3 linked regions of the Homo sapiens genome follow. The protein of the gene in region 3 purifies or fractionates together with the protein of the main gene of each other region. This does not show direct contact. Each region holds a gene or a part of one and is shown on either strand. Other genes may lie near its edges.

Evidence for each region.
Region 1: the proteins of SLC51A (region 3) and TMEM63A purify together in Homo sapiens (affinity purification with mass spectrometry; 2 studies listed by BioGRID and IntAct, with this or other methods). This does not show direct contact.
Region 2: the proteins of SLC51A (region 3) and ANO6 purify together in Homo sapiens (affinity purification with mass spectrometry; 2 studies listed by BioGRID and IntAct, with this or other methods). This does not show direct contact.

Annotation. Positions count from the first base shown.
Region 1 is NC_000001.11:225,851,315-225,858,421, forward strand, and holds part of TMEM63A (mechanosensitive cation channel TMEM63A), read right to left. Parts: intron 5,704-7,107; coding exon 5,597-5,703; intron 5,425-5,596; coding exon 5,338-5,424; intron 4,627-5,337; coding exon 4,564-4,626; intron 2,478-4,563; coding exon 2,315-2,477; intron 1,456-2,314; coding exon 1,350-1,455; intron 1-1,349. UniProt on the Homo sapiens protein: Mechanosensitive cation channel with low conductance and high activation threshold. In contrast to TMEM63B, does not show phospholipid scramblase activity. Acts as a regulator of lysosomal morphology by mediating lysosomal mechanosensitivity.
Region 2 is NC_000012.12:45,345,009-45,352,115, reverse strand, and holds part of ANO6 (anoctamin-6), read right to left. Parts: intron 5,095-7,107; coding exon 5,029-5,094; intron 4,089-5,028; coding exon 3,801-4,088; intron 3,599-3,800; coding exon 3,485-3,598; intron 1,458-3,484; coding exon 1,342-1,457; intron 1-1,341. UniProt on the Homo sapiens protein: Small-conductance calcium-activated nonselective cation (SCAN) channel which acts as a regulator of phospholipid scrambling in platelets and osteoblasts.
Region 3 is NC_000003.12:196,212,400-196,219,543, forward strand, and holds the start of SLC51A (organic solute transporter subunit alpha), read left to right. Parts: upstream 1-4,134; 5' UTR 4,135-4,313; coding exon 4,314-4,351; exon of another isoform or gene 4,352-4,637; intron 4,638-4,662; exon of another isoform or gene 4,663-4,913; intron 4,914-5,442; coding exon 5,443-5,537; intron 5,538-6,264; exon of another isoform or gene 6,265-6,613; intron 6,614-6,958; exon of another isoform or gene 6,959-7,144. UniProt on the Homo sapiens protein: Essential component of the Ost-alpha/Ost-beta complex, a heterodimer that acts as the intestinal basolateral transporter responsible for bile acid export from enterocytes into portal blood. Efficiently transports the major species of bile acids (taurocholate).

The sequences.
Region 1 (7,107 bases), on a different chromosome or scaffold from region 3:
GGGACCAACAGAAAGTGGGTGCTGCCTTTTCTATTATGCCAGGTTCTTTTGTTTTTTTATTTTTTATTTTTTTTGAGATGGAGTCTCGCTCATTGGTCAGGCTGGAGTGCACTGGTGCAATCTTGGCTCACTGCAACCTCTGCCTCCTGAGTTCAAGTGATTCTCCTACCTCAGCCTCCCGAGTAGCTGGGATTACAGGCGCCTGCCACCATGCCCAGTTAATTTTTGTATTTTTAGTAGGGACAGGGTTTCATCATATTGGCCAGGTTGTTCTTGAACTTTTGACCTCAGGTGATGCACTGCCTAGGCCTCCCAAAGTGCTGGGATTACAGGCATAAGCCATCGTGCCCAGCCCCAGGTTCTTTTTTAAAAAATAAATTTTGTTTTGAAAGTGTAAATACTGTAGATTTTTAAAACTACACAAGAAAGTATACAGGGAAAACTAAAACAACTTTTCCCCCTAAAACTCAGCTATCACTGCCAGCAGTCTCTTGGGTTTTTTGTTTCCTTCTAGAGCCTTTCATTAATCTGCCAGTTGCAGATGTTTTATTTCAGTGGCCAGGACCTTGGTCTTTAAACAGTCCTGAGTTCAAAGGCTGGTTCTCCTGCTTACTAACAACATACGAAGTTATTTTGTGTGAAGGGGGAATAGAAACAGGAACTGCCTTGTAGGATGAGGTGAGAAATGTGGTAATCCACGTGGAGGCAGGCATCTGCCAGAGTGAAAGCAGCACGAGAGCTTTGATTGTGACTCTGGCACTGTCTTACTTGCTGCTAAAGAAATCAACCATGAACGACATAGTCAGTGGGCAGAGAACCTCAGACCAGAAATACTAAGAGAGGTCCTAGCTGAGGGCCAGTGGGAGGAATTCATTTAAAAATGAATGAGGCCGGGTGCTGTGGCTCATGCCTATAATCCCAGCACTTTGGGAGGCTGAGGCGGGTGGATCACCTGAGGTCAGGAGTTCAAGACCAGGCTGGCCAACATGGTGAAACCCCATCTCTACTAAAAATACAAAAAGTTAGGCAGGCATGGTGGCGGGCACCTGTAATCCCAGCTACTCAGGAGGCTGAGATGGGAGGATGGCTTGAGCCCAGGAGGTGGGGGTTGCAGTAAGCCAAGATCATGCCACTCCAGCCTGGGCATCAGCATGAGACCCTGTCTCAAAACAAAAAAAGAAAGAAATGAGTGAAATCTGGTGTCACGTGAGTCTTTAGCAGCTTGTGGCTCTTGTGGCTGTGGTTTTGGGAACTCCATTGTGCCCTGGTGATAGCTGTCCCCGAGAGGTTTGGTGCAATCAGCCGTCCATGTACCCATGTACCCTGGGACAGGCTCCAGGGCCACTCACCAAATGGCGCGATGATGGGACAAGTGATGCTGTAGGCCACGATGACAGTGAAGACACACAGCATCCATGCATACATGGCTCCAAACTCGTACTGGAAGGCCTGGTTCTGGGAGGAGGAGGTGGTGAGGAGCTCATGGACTTGTTCCACCTCAAACACCCTTTTGTGCTCTCTAAGTGGTGATGGGAGAGCAGGGTGGAGGAGGACTTTGGAAATAGGAGATGCGTGGCTCCCCGCCTCCCAAGGTCCTTCCCATCCCTCCCAGCCTGCCCTGCTTCACTCAGTGCACCCAGCCCTCCCGAGGCATGGTGATGCGTGTTTGCTAGTGCTCCCTTCGTTCCACCCAACAGGCATGTGAGCCCCTGGAGGGAAGAGGTGGTCAGGGAAGAGGTGTAGAGTGACTCCAGCCCTTCTAGCAGGGGATCCTGGGCCAGCTTAGTTCATGCCTCTGTGAAATCGGGATACTAGCAGTGCCCAGCTCATAAGGGGGCTGAGAATGAAATGAAGGAATGCAGCACTTCTCCCACTTTCCTCGCACAGTGCCCACCATGGCAGAGGAGAATAAAAGAGAAAGCCACACCCTCCAGTTCAGGGAATCCTGGAATAAATGCCACAAGCCGAAAATGCCTTTGACATCTGGGGTTTGGCTAAGAATTTATGCAAATGGGTGCCTACAGAAAAAGAGTCTGTTGGTTTGAGTTGTATGTATGTATGTGTGCGATCAAACCGTTTCAAATGCCAAAGTCCCAAGCTCTCTCCTCCAGCCTGTGAGCTAGAGAGGAGGCTGGAGGAGGCCACGCCTGCCTGGACCCGGGTTTGAGAAGCACTTAGCCCAGTGCCTGCACTAGTGGGTAGTCAGGTAAATGCTACCCACTAGTGGGGGTAGTGGGGGTGAGAGGCCCTCGGGTCAGTGAAGGGGGACATGGGAGGGAGTCAGAGGCACAGCCCTGGGCCCAGGGGATGGCACCTGCTTGACATTCCTGCGGTCAGCAGCCGTCTTGGCCATGATCATGCGGAAGGTATAGAGGATGAGACCTGGCAGCCGCAGCAGCTCCATGCCATTGCCGATGAAGGCCGAGGCGATGACATAGTTCACAAAGAAGGCACCCTGGTCAGGCAGGAAGACGCACCTGGGGAAACCAGGGCCCAGGTCTGTGAGCTGAGAGCCGCTCTTGGAGGGAGAGGAGGGGCCCCTAGGCTGGGCAGGAGCAGAAAGCCCCTGGGAGGGCTGTATACTCTTCCGTTCATTCAGCACATATTTGGGAAACACATCTGTGTGCCAAGCACCTTTCTAGGCACTGAGAATAGAACAAAGCCCCTGCGCCACTCTCTTGAAGTTCACATTCTAGCTGGGGGCACAAACAAGCAGACAAACAAATATTCCATCTGCTGGGGACGGTGAGCACTAGAGGAAAACAAAGCAGGGAGGGTTCCTATGTCATACAGGGGTTGGAGGAGCCTTTCTAACGAGGTGATATTCGTGCAGAAATGTGAAGAGGTGAAGGAGCAAGTCATCCCCAAACCTGGGAAGACAGGATTCCAGGGAAAGGGAACAACATACAAGACACCTGAGGATGTCCTCGTCTGCTGCACATCCAGGGGCTGGACAGCAGTGGGCGAGGGGAGGCAGAAGACAAGGCTGAAAGGGGCTGGGGGCCAGCCCAGGACAAGGGATCTGTTCCAATGGGGTCAGGGAGACTACACAGATGGCCACTGTGTCATCCCCATGTGGGATGAGGGCGGTTGTGATGGAGGTGGTGAGATATGAAGGGATTCTGGATCTACTTTAGAGAGAGTTGTCAGGATTTTCTGGTAGGCTGGGTATGGCATGGGAGGGATAGAAAGGAAACAAGGTGAACTTTGAGGTTTTTTGCCAAAACAAGTAGAAAAACAATATGGAATGGGGAAAGTTGTAGAGTAGCAGATTTGAGGGTAAAAGTCGAGAGTTTGGTTTTGGGCAGGTAACATCCGTGGTACCCAGTAAAACTCCAGCTAGAGTTTGAGGTGGGCAGTTGGGTTACCAGCCTGGAGGTGCAGGCTAGAGGCATAAATGTGGATGTTGTCCGCATAAGTTAATTCAGGAGCAGTATCATGGCATGGAAGCCGTGGGTTCAGCTGAAGTCACCTAGAGAGGCAGTGTGGACCCAGAACTGGGGGCTGAGCCTTCAGGCAGCCAAAATCTAGAGTTGGGGAGATGGGAGAGAACCCACCAAGGAGGGTGACAAGAGGATGCTGCGAGATGAGAGACCCAAGGCCGAGCTTCGAGGAGGAAGGCTCGGATAAATGTGTCAGATGTCGCTGATAGATCATAAGATGAGGATTGAGCTGGTCACTGGACTTGTCAATCTGAAAGTCACTGTCAACCTAGACTATTGCTGGCTGTATGTATGTGTGTCTGTCACAGTCATCAGCTCCCAACTCATCAGCTTACTCAGCAAGAACTCATTTAAAATAACTCGCCCCATCCTTACAGGTAAGCACATTCTTTTAGGAAAGTCAATGCCAAGCCTCTGGACCTATATTAAGACCTAATGTATAGTCTGTAGGGGCTGGGGTTGAATCCCAGCTCTGTTCCTTAACCAGCTGGATAAACTTGGGCAAGTTATTCAACGTCTCCAAACCTCAGTCTCCTCATCTGTAAAATGGAGAGAATAATAGTATCTTCCTCATAGCTCATTGTAAAGATACAGTGAGAAAAAGATGCATAAAGCATTTAGCATAGTGCCTTCTTAAACAATAGCTATTACTATTAAGTGGCATGGTATAAGTTTAAAATACTAACAAGGATACATCAGTAATAAATTTAATTCTATTCTGGCAAAAATAATCCCCAGAGCCCAGAGGCATCCTGGCTGCCATCTTTAATTATTATTCTCCTTTCCCCACTCCCTGGCACCACTGAGACCCAGCAATTCCTTCTCCCCATGTGACTCTGTGCTCAGTAAGTTTCAATGAATGAGACAGCTGCTAATTGAGTTCTGGCCTAAAAAATTAACCACATTTCTGCAAGCATAGCACAAAGTGGGTCAGCTCCCACAGTGTCTACCAGAAACCTGGCAGGGTGGAGGTGAGGCCCCAAGCCCTGCTGTCTGGGGAGGAAGATGCCTGTTCAGAAGCATAGGCTACGACCGCCCCCACCCATCCCACTGCAGCCCCAGCCCCTGTGGGACTTTCACCCAGGGCCATGGCTCCAGAACTCAACTTGGCAATACTCACTCCAACCTGATGGAGGCCTCCGAGGAAGTTTTGTCAAAGAGCCACCGGAAGAAAAAATCTAGACTGAAAAACAAAGGAACCCCCTAAGAGTTTATTTCCAGCATTCCATATTGTCACTACACATGCTTTCATTTTCTTTTGCTCTAAAAACAGGCCAAAGCTCGAGATTGACTTTTGTTCTCAACGATGCCACTTACTACGGCATGACCTGTCACAGTCTGCTTTAACAGAAACTTCCTTCCTTGAGATAAATAAAGCCATGATGAGGCCTTCCCTAAGTGGAAGGTCCTTGATAAGTTTCATTTTCTTTTCTCTTTTGTAGAGATGGGGTTTCGCCAGACTGCCCAGGCTGGAACTCCTGGGCTCAAGCAATCTGCCCACCTCGGCCTCCCAAAATGCTAGGATTACAGGCGTGAGCCACTGTGCCTGGCCACAAAATTTTCAAGCTGGTTTTTTTTTTTTTTTTTTTTGAGACAGAGTCTCACGCCTGTAATCCCAGCACTTTGGGAGGCCGAGGCGGGTGGATCACCTGAGGTCAGGAGCTCAAGAACAGCCTGACCAATATGGTGTTTTTTTCTTTTTTAAAGAAGAACAATCAATCATATTGCCAGAAGAATCAATGACCCAGCCCTACTGCACGCCGAGTGGTTGCGACAGGCTTAGATATTGTTAGAGGTTTGCTTCTGCTGCCAAACCGTTTGCATTCTCCTGGGGACAGTGCTCTCCTGATGTGACTCTTATTCTGAATTTAGAGCAGAAGGTGGTGGCATATACCTGGTGAGACCCAGGGAGGGCAGGATCAGCACCATGAAGATCAAGAATATGTAGACTTTGGTCATCATGATCTGGTTTTCCCCCGACCTGCAGGAAGTCAAAGGTGAGCACTCGCAGTCCCCCAAATGCTCTATGTGCCCCCAGTGAGGCCCCTGCCATGTGCCCACTGCCTGAGCAGCTGGGGGGTTAGGGTGTGGACAAGGGAGCGGTCAGAGATATCCTTCTTAGGGGCAGGGCCTCGGGGCTCCCGGGCACTCACTTGGTCCAGTGAGACTCCAGCAGTGTAGAGTAGTAGACAATGGAGGGGAGCAGGGCCGAGAAGGACCAGAGCAGGAGGGTGGGGAAGAACTGGCTGATGATCGGGTTCTAGGAGAAAGGTCCACAGCAGAGAGAGTCACAGGGGCCGTGGGCCACGCGGCTCTGAGGCCATGACCTATTGGTATGGTCGCTCAGTGGACTCCCAGGGTAGGAGTTTGTCATCTCTGACCCCAGAACCAAAACTGTGCCAGGTACAGAGTTGGTAGTCCATAAATGTTGGCTGAATAATCAGTAACAGCACCTTATATTTGTACAGCTCCTCACAGCACAGCAAAGAAAGCAATTTCACATACGAGTAAACTCCACTTATCTGACTAACCAGATTAAATAACCTTCTCTGCTCCCTATACAAAACCAATGACTGATGCCATGGCAAGACTGAACACCGAAGGCCTGGAGTCCTGGCCGGCGGGGCGGGGGGGGGGGGGTGCCCTGCCTGCTCAGCTCCCACTGTCCAGCTGCAGCATATCAGGGCTCCACTGTGTGTGTCCACAATCCTGCTGTTTGTTACTGGGATTACATGAGCTGATTGACTTATTACTGTCACTGATTAGATGAACATAAAAATAGAGAGAAATTTTCTTTGAAAACTAAGTTGGCTACTTTGGAAAGACTTAATAAAAGTCAATTTCTAAAAAAAAAAACAAAACGCTGTTAATTAGATGAGAGTAAATTAACGATAAAAGATCAAGGGATATGCGATCTAGGAAGTTTCTATATTCAGAATGGCTCGGCAAATATCTAAATTCTTCCTTTACTTTAAAGAAACCAACACTGGAATCACAAAACAATGAAATAAGGGTGTGGTTGATGTAAAGTAGACAAAGGGGAGCTCTCATCAGCAGATCCATCTTCAAAAGAATAGGCCTGTCCTTCTATTAAAAGATTGGCAAAGGAATGCATATTTATAATACCTGCTTTAAATCTTAAGCAAAGCTGCTGAATTTATACTTAGGTAGTTTAAAACTATCTATGGAGTCAGATAAGAGCTTCAACCACACATCAGCTCATTGATTATCATGACAACAGCCTCACGCCCTGTATAATAGTGCAGGTGTTTTAACTCCAGTTCTTGGATGAAAAACTGAGGTTCAGAATTCATCAGATAGGGAATGGCAAAGTGAAGACAAGGAGGCCCACCTGCCCCGTGTGCTTTCCCAGGGAATGATTAACCAAATGCAAAGTGAAATTTAAAAAGAAAAATAATCTAGGGAGATGGTTTGGCAAAGCTAATCATGAGAAACCAATAGCTTTTTGAGTAGATGCCAGTTGAGTGAGTGTTTGGCTGTTATCTCATTGATTCATCTAAGATTTTTGAAAATCGTTCATTACCTATACAGAATAGTTTGTTTTTTTTTTTTTTTTTTTTTTTTGAGATGGAGTTTCGCTCTTGTCGCCCAGGCTGGAGTGCAGTGGTGCAATCTCGGCTTACTGCAACCTCCACCTCCCGGT
Region 2 (7,107 bases), on a different chromosome or scaffold from region 3:
ATGGGGTGTTGAGACACCATAAAAAAACAGGTACGTGGCTCCAGACAGACATGAAGTTAACTCTCCTCTCCTCGTCACTCTCCACATCCAATCCATAAACAAGTCCTGTCGACCCGACTCCCCAAACACATCCCAAATCTGCTCCCACAGTCTTCTGCCTGGCTCAAACAGCCTCCTACCTAGTGGTCTCCCTGCTCCCTGTACCCCTTATAATCCATTCTCCACATTATCTGCAAAACGTGAATAGGATACAATGACTTAAACATTTAAAATATTACAACTGCTTCTCACTGCAATTAAAGTCTAAACTCTTTTCGGCGCTCCTGCCACCCCTCTAACTTCATGTCTTGCTCTGTTTCTCACTAGCACTGGTCTCTGATGTTTCCTCAAACTTGCCAAATGTGTGTGCATCTCAGGGCCACTGTACAAGCTGCCCCTATTCCTAGAAGGACTTCTGCCAAGTCCTCAAAGCACTGGCTCCTCTTCACTATCCGATCTCAGCTTAAAAGTCACCTCCTCAAAGATAACTCCCTCAACTCACTTCCCACTCTGCCCTCCCATCCTATTGCTCTGTTATTTTCTTCACTTCCATTAGAAATTCTGTTTATTTATTTTCATGTTTTATTGGCTTGTTTGGGTGTTCTTGGTCTATCTCCCACAAGCCAGAATCCTCAGCCCTGCCCAAACAACGTAAGCTTCTGGAGGAAAACCAACAGGGTACCTTGGGAAGAAAAACTCTTGAGCTAGTCATTGTATCTTGTGAGATACAACGAAATAGAACCTAGAGGCAGACATAAGAAAAGAGTGAAAATGTACATGTCTTACCATACAATAGAAACTACATCTAACATTTACTTCTGTGCAATATGGAATTTGGTGGGTCTGCATCCCAGTTCCTGGGCGGTGGGTAACCTCTAAACCCTTGGAACTTCCTGAGAGATAGGAGTGCCTTTTTATTCACAGTGGGACCCTAGGACTACGCCTGATAGTTTATGCCAGTGAAGTGGCTCATGGTGGACCTCTAGAGAGTTTGTGCTAATGAGATGACTCAGGGTGGAGGCTGGCCATGCCAGAAGATCAACCATGTGATTGGAGAACTGGAGCTTTGAGCCACATATTACTGGCCATCTTCCAGGGGGAGGATGATACTGGAGATGGGTAATGATTCAATTAATCATGCCCACATAATTAAGCCTCAATAAAAACCCTGGCCAACGAAGCTCAGCACTCTGGGTCAGCTCCCTTCACTGGCAAGAGTCTTGATGAGTACTGTCACATTCAGATGCTGTGGGGGTAACACCCTGAGTGCCTCCCCCTGGAGTACTCCCTACAACCCCTCACCTGATAAGATCCAAGGGCTGCTTTTTGTATATGCTTCGAGGATGAGCCCATTCTCTGTACAGAAGGTACCGTTCATTAGGGCAGCTGGGATCCTCTGACTGACGGCGGAATTTGCACTGTGACGCAGAAGGGAACATGTAAGCACCATAATCATCGTGTTTTCACAAATCTGCTTCTTAAATGTGATACAAATACTTGATAGTCAATTGTGAACAAGGGGTCCTCACCTTCTGGAAAGGGTGGAAATACCATCTAATTTTTAGTGATTCTTAACCAGGCATGGTACTACCCTCCTTGGGGGTCATTTATGAATGTGGGCAGGGATGAACGATTGGGTGTTACAATCCTGGGGAGCACTGCAGGGACTCTGTGAGGGCCCCAGAGATGCTTAAAATGCTTTAAGTGGGGCAGTCCTACACAATGAAAAATTGGGCCACCCAAGTGCCCAAATCACCACACCAGAGGAACACGTGATAACCCACCCCTCTCCTTGGACAATGGGGAAACCAAGGCCTTGGCTGGTTAGCAGCAGGGTCAATTCTAAAACCTAGGCTTCTTTGCCCCCAGTTCAGCAGTTATTCTGTGATAACATACAGAAAACAAACAATAAAGCTGGGTATCATGTTACACACTTAGCTTATTCAAGAAACAAAACTTCCTGCTTAAATCCAGTTGCCTTTTTTTCTGACTCATTTTTCTTCTTCTGGCACTAGAACCAGATTACCACCCAGCCAAATCAGGGCACAGGCCCTGACCTTCACACACCTCCCTCTCAAATACCACATGGGACCATTTGTTAGCCTGAATACAGGACCACTGCAATTAGAAGAGGCTTTAGTGGAAAAGACATGGCCAAAAGCAAATGTCAACTGTTAGAGAACCCTGGCATCCCAAATTAATATTCGTGACAGCTATTTGCAAGTGGCCTCAAAATTCATGTCCTGTTATTCGCAATTAGCTAAATTCAGTGGGGCACAAAAGTAAAACACATGGACTCTCAGGCTGGATGGCTACATTGGGTCTCTTAGGATCAGTATTTACCTCACCCAGCTCCCTGTTCTCTACTTTTCCATGTGTATCAAGCTGCTGTTTAGTGTCCTAGTTTTATTATGTTATTCAGTACATTTCAATATCGTCTCTATCCACAAATACATGTACTACACAGTAGCAATTACCAATCTCAGTCTTTACTTTCTTTGGTCTTACACAGTCAGATAAATTGATAGTGAATATAACAAAGTAATAATGCAATATAATATAGTATTTAATTTATTTCAATGACAGAGTTTAAACAGCTTTAGTTATAATGTCCCTGCATTTACAGTGGTCACATTTTAAAAATTTCATTTCACGAGAGATGTTCTCGGCTAGAGAAGTACTCTTGAATTTGAGGGGTTGCTGTGGTCTCAGAATGTAGTCCTTAAAAAAATGTCAACCATCTGGGGTACTGCCATTGTCACAACAACCCTGACAGATGCCTTTTTAAAAGCCCAGGGATATTCCAGGGGACAGTTTGAAAATCGTATTCCAAATGAGGAAGAAAAGTCTATGTTGCAGAAAATGATAAATGAGAAGGTCTAACATGTATTTTGCTGACAAAGAACTAATCTTTTCTGGTTGATAATAACATCTGTTAGTAATTATGAAAACAGCTAACACTTATAATAGTATTTATTATATGCTAGGGACTAACATTTGGATTAATTTAATGGATTAATTTAATCCTCTTAACAACTCTAGGAGGTAGGTAATAATTTATCCCCAGCTTATTGATGAGGAAATGGAGGAAGAAAGGCTAAATGACTTTCACAAGGTCATCCAGCTAGAAAGTGGCAGGGCAGGCATTTTGGTCTCAGAAATGCTAACACAGATTAACTGCTAATCTATACTGCTTTACACATTAACTGTGAGAGAGGTCCTGTCCATTCATTCATTCGCTCCTTTAAAACTGAGTATCTTTATAACTGGGATCCATCTGTGAACAAAAGACCTAGTTCTTACCCTAAATGAGCTTGTAATCTTGCAGTATGTTCCCTTCATTTTACTGAGGAAGAAACTTACAGTCAGGAAAGTTAGCCCTTTGCTATTGTCAACACCAGAGTATACAGAAGGCCTTTTAGTTCATTTTTGCCTTTTAACTTACATCATGGAGTGGGAAAGCTGCCTTGTAGATCCCAGAGTTTACAAGTCTGTTGATCCCAAACTTGCTAACATTGTTTATCACTTGATACTTGACCCGAGAGAGGATGAAGTAAACCTAAAAAGATTCCAAAATAGAGTATGCGGTTTATATAGTGTAATTAACCAATCCAATCATTGTTTACTACTGTAACACAAATCTGCTGGCATATTTCTTTTCTTTTTGTGCAGTTTTTAAAAATAAAACCAAACCAACCAAACCACAAAACAGCAGGTTCCAAATTACCCCAAGACAGCAACTAAATTTGGTTTAGACTTACAATGCGGCTTCTGGTGGCTGGATTGAAGAAAGCATCTCTATCAACTATGTAAAAATCATTCATCCGGTTCTTCTCAAATGGGGCAGTGAAAAACTCTTGCTCTGGCTTGATGATGCTTTCGTCTACACTGAGGACTTTGGTAAACCAGTTGAGTGTACCAAAGGCTGAGGACCGGTTTTTCAGATCATTGGGTTTCAGAGGCAATTTGATGTGCATTATCTCAGCATACGTACATAACACCTCCCATGGTGCGTGTACTTTTACAAATACAAGCTTGTCATCCAATACCTATATTGGAAAAATAAAAACGCAGAACAAGAAACCAACTCTTTTCACAATTTTAAAACACATAGATTTTTCTTATGTTGTTGGTAGCTTTAAAAAAACAATACAGAGACCACCACTAAAAGTGAAGATAACAATAAAAACAGATTTGCAAACCATCATAAATTTTTGTCTTAAAGACGATTTCTTGGTTTGAATCATTAAGGAAGTAATTCAAATCATCATAGTTCATAAAACTATGAAAATAATTTATAAAATGAAGAAAACCAAACTTATTTGTCTATCACTCTACCCTAATTATTGACTTAAAGTAAAAACACTAGAATATTCATTGTAGTGCTAGCATAATGAAAAATTTTTAATTTTCTAAACCTCGAATGAACTTATTGTCTATCTGTTCAATATCATATTATGTGGCTGTTAAAAATGTCAAAGAATTATATTTATTGACATAAATCCATTTGCTATATATTAAAGGGAAAAAGCAAATTATAAAACTGTGAAGTGGTAATTTTCTCCTTTTTGAAAGATAAAAAATGTGTACATATATATTTTTGAGTAAAACAGCTCAGAAGGACTGCAAAATTATTTATGGATAATTAAGATACAGATTATTTTCCTTATTCTTATGTTTTCTAATTTTTTACCATAAACTATTTTTTGTATAACAAAAAAGCTTTTAGAAGTTTCTTAAAGAAAGAAAATAATCATTCATACATGCATTCATTGTAAAATTCGTTGGCTATTAAAAAAGATCTGCTAGTTTTGATCAGAAAAAAAGAATACATCCTACACAATGCAGATTTTGATTGACTCCTCTCCCAGTCTATGACTAAGATGTGGCCAGGGCTGCATGTTTCCAATGTCACCCAAGTATTCCAAGTGGCACGAAGCTGCCCGAGAACAGTGGTCAGCCGAGGGCTGAAAAGGGACCAGTACTTACTGATCTTGTTGCTTCTAACTGCAGGCCATGACAGATAAGGTTAGATTCGTATGCTTGTCTTTTCCTCTGTCAAAAGAAGTTGGAATATATGTTAGACCTTTAGTTTACCAAAGGCAGAAAAAGGCATTTTTTAAAACAATATTAATAACAAAATCAAACTAGCGTGGACCTGAAAAAGAAATGCATCAGCATTTGGTCAAGCAAATGGAATAGAAGAAATGAAGCAGCTCTTGCTGCTGGTGACATGTAAGTGTTGGATCCCCAAGAGAATGCCGTGGAGGGTACTTCGATGCCCTGGCACCCTGGAAGGCCCTTGGCTGTCCTGGTGTGGTTTCAGTCATCTGAGGTAAATAACAGTATCCTGCTTTGACACAATCCCACGTACTTTTTGGCTCATAAAAGCATACAAATTGAGCTTTCTGAGTCCTATTCACTGATACGAGTTTTCAGAGTTGAAGATTCCAGATTTTAAAAATTTGGTTTCCATACCAGACATTCAAATGGTTCAATTACTGGATGTGTATGCGTCATCCCTGCATATCTTGACCAAATTCAATAAAACAACACAGGCAATTTTGGCAAAATTCAGATAATTTTTTTCTCTCTGCAAGACTGAGATGTTTGTGAAGCTATGTCTAAATCCATAAAAATAGTGAACTAAATTGATATCTATATTACATGGCCATTTCAAAAGATACAGAATATACTACACTTATGGATATTAAATTCTAGATGCCTAGGCTTTTGCCAAGCTGTGCCCAAAGTTGTAAGGGAAGCATGCAAAGATGGAGACTTGTTTGACCTTTTAAAAAGAATGCTTTTCATGACAAAACAGTTTATACTGCTTTGTGAAATGAAGAAAATGAGTAGACACAGAGGTTAAGAACACAAGCTCTGCTATGGTTTAAATATGTCCCCCAAAAATCATGTTAGAAACTTAATCCCCAATGCAACAGTGTTGAGAGGTGGGGCCTACTGAAGGGTAATCAGGCCACAAGGGCAGACTTAACAAATTAATGACATTATCACAGGAGGGAGTTTATTAGCATGGAATGAGCTCCTTATAAAAGTTTGGCCCCCTTTTGTTTCTAACCCCCCCGCCCCATTTTTGTTTCTCCCTACCACCTCTCTCTCCCCCACCACCGTGGGGGTGACACTGCAACAAAGTCCTCACCAGATGCCAGCCCCCTTGATCTCAGACTTCCCAGCCTACAGAACTGTGAGCCAATCAATTTCTGTTCTTTATAAATTAGTCTGTGGAATTCTGTTACAGCAGCACAAAATGGACCAGAATGAGCTCTGTAACCACACTTCCTGGGTTCAAAATCTGATTTATTATTCATCAACTCTATGACCCATGACAAGAAAATTAAACTCTCCATGCCTCATTTTTCTTCATCTGTAGAACTAAGAAAACCCACTTGTTTCCTTTTTAGGGTCTTGTGAAGATATGATTTAAACTACATAAAGCACATGAAGTAGAATTTTCATTTCCAATAGTGACAAAAGGTAACTTGGGGCAAGCCTTACACTGAAGACAGCTGAAAACGCTGGGTGGAATATTTAGCACAGCAGTTAACAAGACAGAGAGGAACTGCTAGGTCCAGGTCGAGATCATCTAGTGGGTCTGGCAGTCAGACACTTTACCCAGGGAACAATACTCATGATCTGCCCACTCTAAAGGGACAGAGTGGGGATGAGTTGCTGTGCTATGCACAGGGCCTAGAACATAAAAAAAATCCCATAAACTAGAAGTAGGTGAAGCTGCAGGAAAAAGACCAAAGGTCAAAAAGTAAAAGAATATACCTGGTATTTGGCTACATTTGAGTCCAAGTGGAATCCCTGATGTATTGTGTTGAAGTATCAGAAAAAGGATATTGCTTTGTTTTTATATCTTTAATAAATGGTTGTACAGTACTTAAAACATGCCAGACACTGTTCTAAGAGCTGTTCAGATATAGTACATTTAACTATTGGCTGCAATTTGAACATACAATAGAGTAGCAGAGGAAACCAGCAAGTGGTATAACTTCCCTAAACACAAGCAAATGGCCTAGAAATGCCCCACTCAGATAGGGG
Region 3 (7,144 bases):
CTGCCCAGCAAGCTCACTTCAAGGACAGTTATAAGATAACGCTGTTTAAGAGGCCAAGGCCAAAAGAATAAGCTCCAGACACCCCTCGCCTCCAGAGCAAAGTTGAAGAAAAAAAAGAAAGACAAATTCTTTGACTGTTACTCCTTTCCCAGGTTTCTTAAGCATGATTATGTTTTACAAATGTCTGTATTTAGCCAGTTCTTGTTTTTCTTTCAATGCAGCTACAAAGTCACCAGCTATGCAAGGCCACAAGTTATGCTATAGATGATGTGACCTGTCATATGATTAACTACTTTTATTTATTGGAAGTCTGCTTATAAAAACCCCGCTCTGTCTTTGTTCGATGCTCAGCTTTTTAGATGACAGTCCACTAAGCCAGTGCGTACCTGAAATAAACAGTCCTCTCGTTCTCTGTCTCAGTCTTGCCAGTCCTCAGTTTCCTGCAACATCTCTACTAAAAATACAAAAATTAGCCAGGTGTGGTGGTGCGCACCTGTAATCCCAGCTACTCGGGAGCCTGAGGCACGAGAATCGCTTGAACCTGGGAGGCGGAGGTTGCAGTGAGCCGAGATCTCACCATTGCACTCCAGCCTGGGAAACAAGAGTGAAACTATGTCTCAAAAACACAGAATAAAAGAAAAGAAAAGATTATGCAAAATGGAAGAAACTAGGCACAAAAAGCCACATATTGTATGGTTCCACTTACATGAAATATCCAGAGTAGCCAAATCCATAGAGATCAAAAGCAGATTCACAGTTGCCAGGGTGTGGGAGGAGGGGGACTGGAAGAGATGAGGTTTGTTGTTGTTGTTTTGAGACTGAGTCTCACTCTGTCGCCCGGGCTGGAGTGCAATGGCACCATCTCAGCTCACTGCAATCTCTGCCTCCCGGGTTCAAGCAATTCTCTTGCCTCAGCCTCCCAAGTAGCTAGGATTATAGGCACCTGCCACCATGCCCAGCTAATTTTTTTTTTGTAGTTTTAGTAGAGACGGAGTTTCACCATGTTGGCCAGCCTGGTCTCGAACTCCTGACCTCAGGTGATCCACCCACCTCAGCCTCCCAAAGTACGGGCATTACAGGAGTGAGCCACTGCACTCGGCCTAATTTTTGTATTTTTAAGAGATGGGGTTTCACCATGTTGGTCAGGCTGGTCTCGAATTCCTGACCTCAAGTGAGCCACCTGCCTCGGCCTCACAAAGTGCTGGGATTACAGGTGTGAGCCACGGCGCCCAGCCTCTTTTTTGATTTTTCAAAACTGACTCTCATATTAAGGAAGCCAAAACTTAAGTGATAACTGAAATGATCGTGTTACTGACCACAGGTTCTTTAGGCTCCGATAAAAATTGACACGAGGCCAAGCAAATTTCCCAGACAAGGCTTTATTAGGGGCTTCCGTTCCACCACGGGGGAGACAGCACCGCAGGGAGAGGTCTCCGGCTGGCTCCCCAGGGGACTGCGTTGTGGCGTCTCGAGGAGGGCGACACGCGTAATTCATGAGGTAGGTGAGCGTCCCTGCAGGAGTGACAGAACGCACAGGGATAGTTAGGAATCGCGGTAACACATACATCGCAGGATCAGAACACGACGAGAAAGCCTCTCCCTGGCAGAGGCTTTTGTTTTGTTTCTGTCTGTCACCCAGTCTGGAGTGCAGTGACAAGATCTCGGCTCCCTGCAACCTCCGCCTCCCAGGTTCAAGCGATTCTCGTGCCTCAGCCTCCCGAGTAGCTGGGATTACACCACCACACCTGGCTAATTTTTGTATTTTTAGTAGAGACGGGGTTTCACCTTGTTGGCCAGGCTGGTCTCAAACTCCTGACACCTCAGGTGATCCGTCCGCTTCGGCCTCCCAAAGTGCTGGGATTCCAGGTGAGAGCTGCCGCGCCGAGGCAGAGGTCTTGGTCTTGTAATGAGGCCGAGGGTAAAGAGTGGTCGTGCTTCCGGCTTCCTGCACACAAAGGCAATGGAGTTCATTCCCTGAAGTACAAGATTGGAAGTGCGACGCTGCCTATCTTCATTTTTCAAGGTCGTGTGATCAGTGGATGTGGCATTTTGTGTAAGATTTACAGTGGAATGCTGCTTATCTTAATGCTTTCACTGTCCTTCAATGAGCAGGTAAGAAAAAAAAAGGAAGAAAGAAAAATGTTGGGGGGGGGAATGCATTAGCGAATGCATTAGTGGAGTTGGCAGCCGAGTCCCATCCCTCCTCTGTCTCAATAAGTGTCAGATGATGCTATCATATAATTTTGTGGGAAAAAATAGGCCAAAGAAATGAAATTCAGAAGGACTTATTCTTTTTGGTTCTAAAATCAGTTTCTGAGAGCTGGCAGGCCCCAACTGCCAAGAGGAGACCCTGGCGGCCACAGCTCATCCTCTCTGACCAAGCCTTAGCTGGGGATGGGCCGGCCTCCAGGCAGGGCCTCCCGCTGGCTGGATCCCGGGCCACACTGTACAGAAGACAACCCCGTAGAGACCTTGGGTGGGGCAGAAGCCCCCTTCCCTCACTGACACCCTGCCGGTCTCTCCTGGGGTCTCCCAGTCTCTGCTGCCCAGTGGGGAAGCACCCGTCTCAGCCCAACCGCAGCCCCCCCCGGCTCCCTCCTGCCCTTTCACCTTTCCTGCCATTCCCCACTGTGTCCTGAAGTTTCTAAGAACATCCCCAGCGCCCTGTTGTCAGCTCTGGGAAGTCTAAAGTTCAGGGCTTTGGGTAATTAAACCCAAGGCCTCTCAGTGGGCTGGGGGTGAATGACCTGGCGAACGTGCCTGCGGAGATGCTGGGAGGAAGCTGAGTCAGTCTGCGTCTTTGTCAGGGTGGGCTGAGGCCAGTGACCCTCTGGGGGTCAGGGCCCTTGCAGGCCTCTTCCTTCCCTGACCTCCACCTTAGGAGGCAGCTGGCCCCTGAGACGCCTGCCTCACGACATTGTCCTGTCCCAGGAACTGGACTTTAGGAGGAGGGGAAGCTGGAGGGGGATGCAGCTTGACTCTTGGGAGAGACTTTGAGGTGTCTGGGCACAGGAGTGGGGAGTCCTCCGGGTACCCCATCAGGGACTGCTTCCACTGCTTGTATGGCCTCACCAGCCCAGCGCAGGAAGCCCCCTCTCCCTTCCCAGAATTGACCCTCTGCACCCTCTCCTGGGCCCTCTTCTCACTACCTCCATCTCCACCATGCCCCAACAGAGCCCCTCCCCCAGGCCCCTTTGGCCGCTCTCCACACCCCACAGCTTTCTGTCTGACCTGGTTTCTTAGCCTCTCTGGACCTCAGCCTCCTTATCTGTAAAATGGGAATAAGGATACTACTTCCCTTGTAACGCGGTGGTAAAGTTTAAATAAGCTAAGGAACACACTGCATGTCCTGCGGGCCCTGGCACACCAGACATGCTGACAGACGCTGGCTGCTTTCATCAGCTATGCAACCAAATTCTAAGGGGCCCTTCGTATGTGTCAGGCTGCGTGCCAGGAACCTAGAGGTACCACCGTACCACAGTACAAGATGCTGTGTCTGGCTTCGAAGAGATTTCAGTCTATGTGGAGAGAGAGAAAAGGGAAGCTATCAGCCAATAAAATCGTTTGCAAGCCTGTAATTCAGCAGGTTTTCAAGACCTGTCAAATGCCCAGCAATCTCACTCTGCAACTCTGCCTCTTAAATACAGCATCTTCCGGCCCAGCGTGGGGGTGGCTAAGCCCATCATCCAGATGTGATGAACTGGGGTCTGGGAAACCCACACCGGCCTCATCTGGCTTTTCCAGCCTGTCCTCCCTTCCACACATCAGGCTGACAGCACCAAACACGGCCGAGGCCTCAGCCCTGAGTCTCCCCGCTGCAGAGTGCCCAAGCCTGAGTTCCAGCAGGTTCTTCAGGGGCCGCTGACCAGGGAACACTGCGGTGAGGAGCGAGGACTTCGTCCCCACCCCGGCCCAGGGCAGGGGCTTCGTGGTGAGCCCACCCCACCCCAGAAGGCTCCTGGAAGGGCAGGGCAGACTGGCAGCAAAATCCTATAGGATGGGCCGGGCCAGAGGCAAGGGGTGGCCAAAGGCACCTGTCCAAGAGGTGGGAGGGACCACACCTGGGGGCAGGGACGAGTCAGGCACAGGGAACTCCGCCAGCCTAGAGGATCAAATTCCTCCGGGGTGAACTCTGAGATAGAAAGTTGGCCCGGGAAGCTCAAGGAGGGAGAGCGGCAGAGGGGAAGACTCTGCAATTCTGCTTGCCCCCCACCCCGGCCCAGGCAAGCCACCCTGCCCCCGGCCCCCACCTGCCCGCCCCGCCTGCCCTTCCTCACCCCGGTGCCTGCGGGATTGCTGGAGAGAACGCGGCGATGGAGCCGGGCAGGACCCAGATAAAGCTTGACCCCAGGTAAGTGAGGGCGGCGGGCCCTGGGCCAGTCGCTGGGCAGCGGTGGCCCCTATCCCGCGGCCTGTCCTCTCTCCCTCCCAGAGCCCTTTGGCGGCCGCACTCAGAATGAGACAGGACTGGAAATGCTCTAGCTGTTCCTAGGTCCTCAGGGACAACGTGGGTTTGGGCCAGGGTGTGACACTCCAGGGCCTCGGCCTTGCCCCCCAGCGTGGGGAGAGAAAGGTCGCAGAGCGGGGGCTGTGGAAGGCATTCGCAGAGGAAATGGCAGCATCCCTCAGCAGCAGGGGGCCCGTCCGTCTGTAAGGACTCACCCTTCCTCTGGGATCCTGCTCTTCCTCTCTGGTCAGTCCCTGGGCTGCTGCCCGACCCGCATGGAGAGAATCCACGGTGGGCTCTTCAGGCACGGCAGCCAGGCACAGCCTGGCTAGGTGGCAGCTTGTCTTACTCCCCCACCTGGGCCAGTTCTCCACTCCCTCTAAGAAAAGGGCCCTGAGGCCGGGCGCCTGTAATCCCAGCACTTTGGGAGGCTGAGGCGGGAGTCCAGGAGTTTAAGCCCAGTTCCAGTTTGAGTCCTGGAGTTCGAGACCAGTGTCTGAGCAACATGGCGAAATCCTGTCTCTACCAAAAATATAAAAAATTAGCCGGGCCTGGTGGCGTGCACCTGTAGTCCCAGCTTACTCATGGGGATGGGGGTTGAGTAGATCACTTGAGCCCAGGAGGTCAAGGCTGCCTGTATGAGCCAAGACAGACCACTGCACTCCAGCCTGGACAACAGAGCAAGACCCTGTCTCAAAAAGAAAAAAAAAGAAAGAAAAAGGAAGGAAGGAAGGAAGGAAAGAGAAGGGGAAGGAAGAGAGAAAGAGAAAGAGAGAGCAGAAGGAAGGAAGGAAGGAGAAGGGGAAGGGGAAGGGAGAGAGAAAGAGAAAGAGAGAGTGAAAGGAAGGAAGGAAGGAAAGAAAGAAAGAGAGAGAAAGAGGCCCTGAGGGGAAATGGACAAAGTCCTGCACTCAGGAGTGGTTGAGGGTCCAGTGTGCAACCCTCCCCCTTCCCCCAGCCCCCATGGTTCTGAGCACAGGCTGGTGTCTCGCCAGGTACACAGCAGATCTTCTGGAGGTGCTGAAGACCAATTACGGCATCCCCTCCGCCTGCTTCTCTCAGCCTCCCACAGCAGCCCAACTCCTGAGAGGTGAGTGGGGACCCTCCTCAGAGGGAACTGAGAGGAGGGAAACCAGGATAGCTGAGTGGAGCTGGGGAGAGGCGGCCCTGAGCTGGTGCACCTGGGCAGCCGGGGAGAATAACTGGCCCGGTGTCTGTCATCGTGGTTAAGGCTCTGGAGAAGGGCAATGCCTCAAGGAGTCAGTGGGTCAAAAGGGTAGCATGAGAGCCTGGCTCCGGAGAGCAACCGTCATGTTGGGCCTCCACAAAACTGGCCTCAAAGCTCATTCAAACTGCGGACACTGCGACCTGGGGCGCTTTTTCAGACCCCAGAGCCATCTGGGGACCCAAGATGGTGCCCAAGTGGTCCAAGCCCCATCGGGTCTCCTGGAGGGCTGCACGGCATCCGCCCTGGACCCATGTCACTCTAGAGGGTGGTTACGGTGAGTGACGTGCTTCACACAGGTGAACCAGTTGTATTTGTTTTACGATCCAGCCTTTCTGAAAAACCTTTGTCCTCACTGGAGCATTCTGTTGTCGGGTTTTTGTGTGTGTGTTTGTGGGTATTTGCCTCATTCCACCCCTGAGCTCTCAGGTGGACAGATGGGATTCAAAAACCTGTTCTACAGTGTTTATTGTAGTGGAGTAATTTGTTTGCAATAATAAGTCATAATTGTCCACTGAAGGGGAGGGTGTGGGGATCCCCGAGGCCAGCTCAAGTTCAGCTGTTGGAAGAATTCCTTGACTGGAAATTTTACCTTTGCGTTTTGTCGCTCTGTTTCCTGAAGATAACTTGGGGTGCTCCTGGTCGTCCATCTACTGCTTTGATTCCTTGGATCCCACCCATTCTTTCACTTTAAGAAAAAACAAGTAATTGTTGCAGAGGTCTCTGTTTTGCAGCTTCCCTTTTGCAAGAAGCACTTTTTCCAAATAAAACAGTAATTAAAAAAAAAAAAACATAGGTGAACCTGCAAAAGTCCTCGCAGTGTTGGCCAACAAGATTCTATTACTGAATTACTTTTGAAAGTGAAAGGCATTGGCTGGGAGCGGTGGCTCACGCCTGTAATCCCTGCACTTTGGGAGGCCGAGGCAGGTGGATCACTTGAAGCCAGAAGTTGGAGACCAGCCTGGCCAACATGGTGAAACCCCGTCTCTACTGAAAATACAAAAATTAGCCAGGCGTGGTGGCGGGCACCTGTAATCCCAGCTACTCGGGAGGCTGAGGCAGGAGAGTTGCTTGAACTCGGGAGGCGGAGGTTGCAGTGAGCCGAGATCACGCCACTGCACTGCAGCCTGGGCAACAGAGTGAGTGAGACTCCGTCTCAAAAATAAAAGAAAAAAAAGGAAAAGAAAAAGAAAGTGAAAGGCATAGGATGGGGCTCAGCTTATTCCCCGGACACCAAAAACATTGAGAATCACGGCCCGAGCATGCTTAGAGAAAATGTGACTCACGCCTGCGTTTTATTTTGTTTTCCTGCTGCATACTGACTACCTCTGAAATGTTGGATACAAGTCTGTGTCTCTGTAGCACATTTAACACGTTTCCCAGGCAACAGGAAGCTCTCAGTGTGCGTTCTGTTGCAGACGTGGGCGTGTCCTTGGGCTGTGTAGGGCTTCATTTCAGATGATCTGAACCAG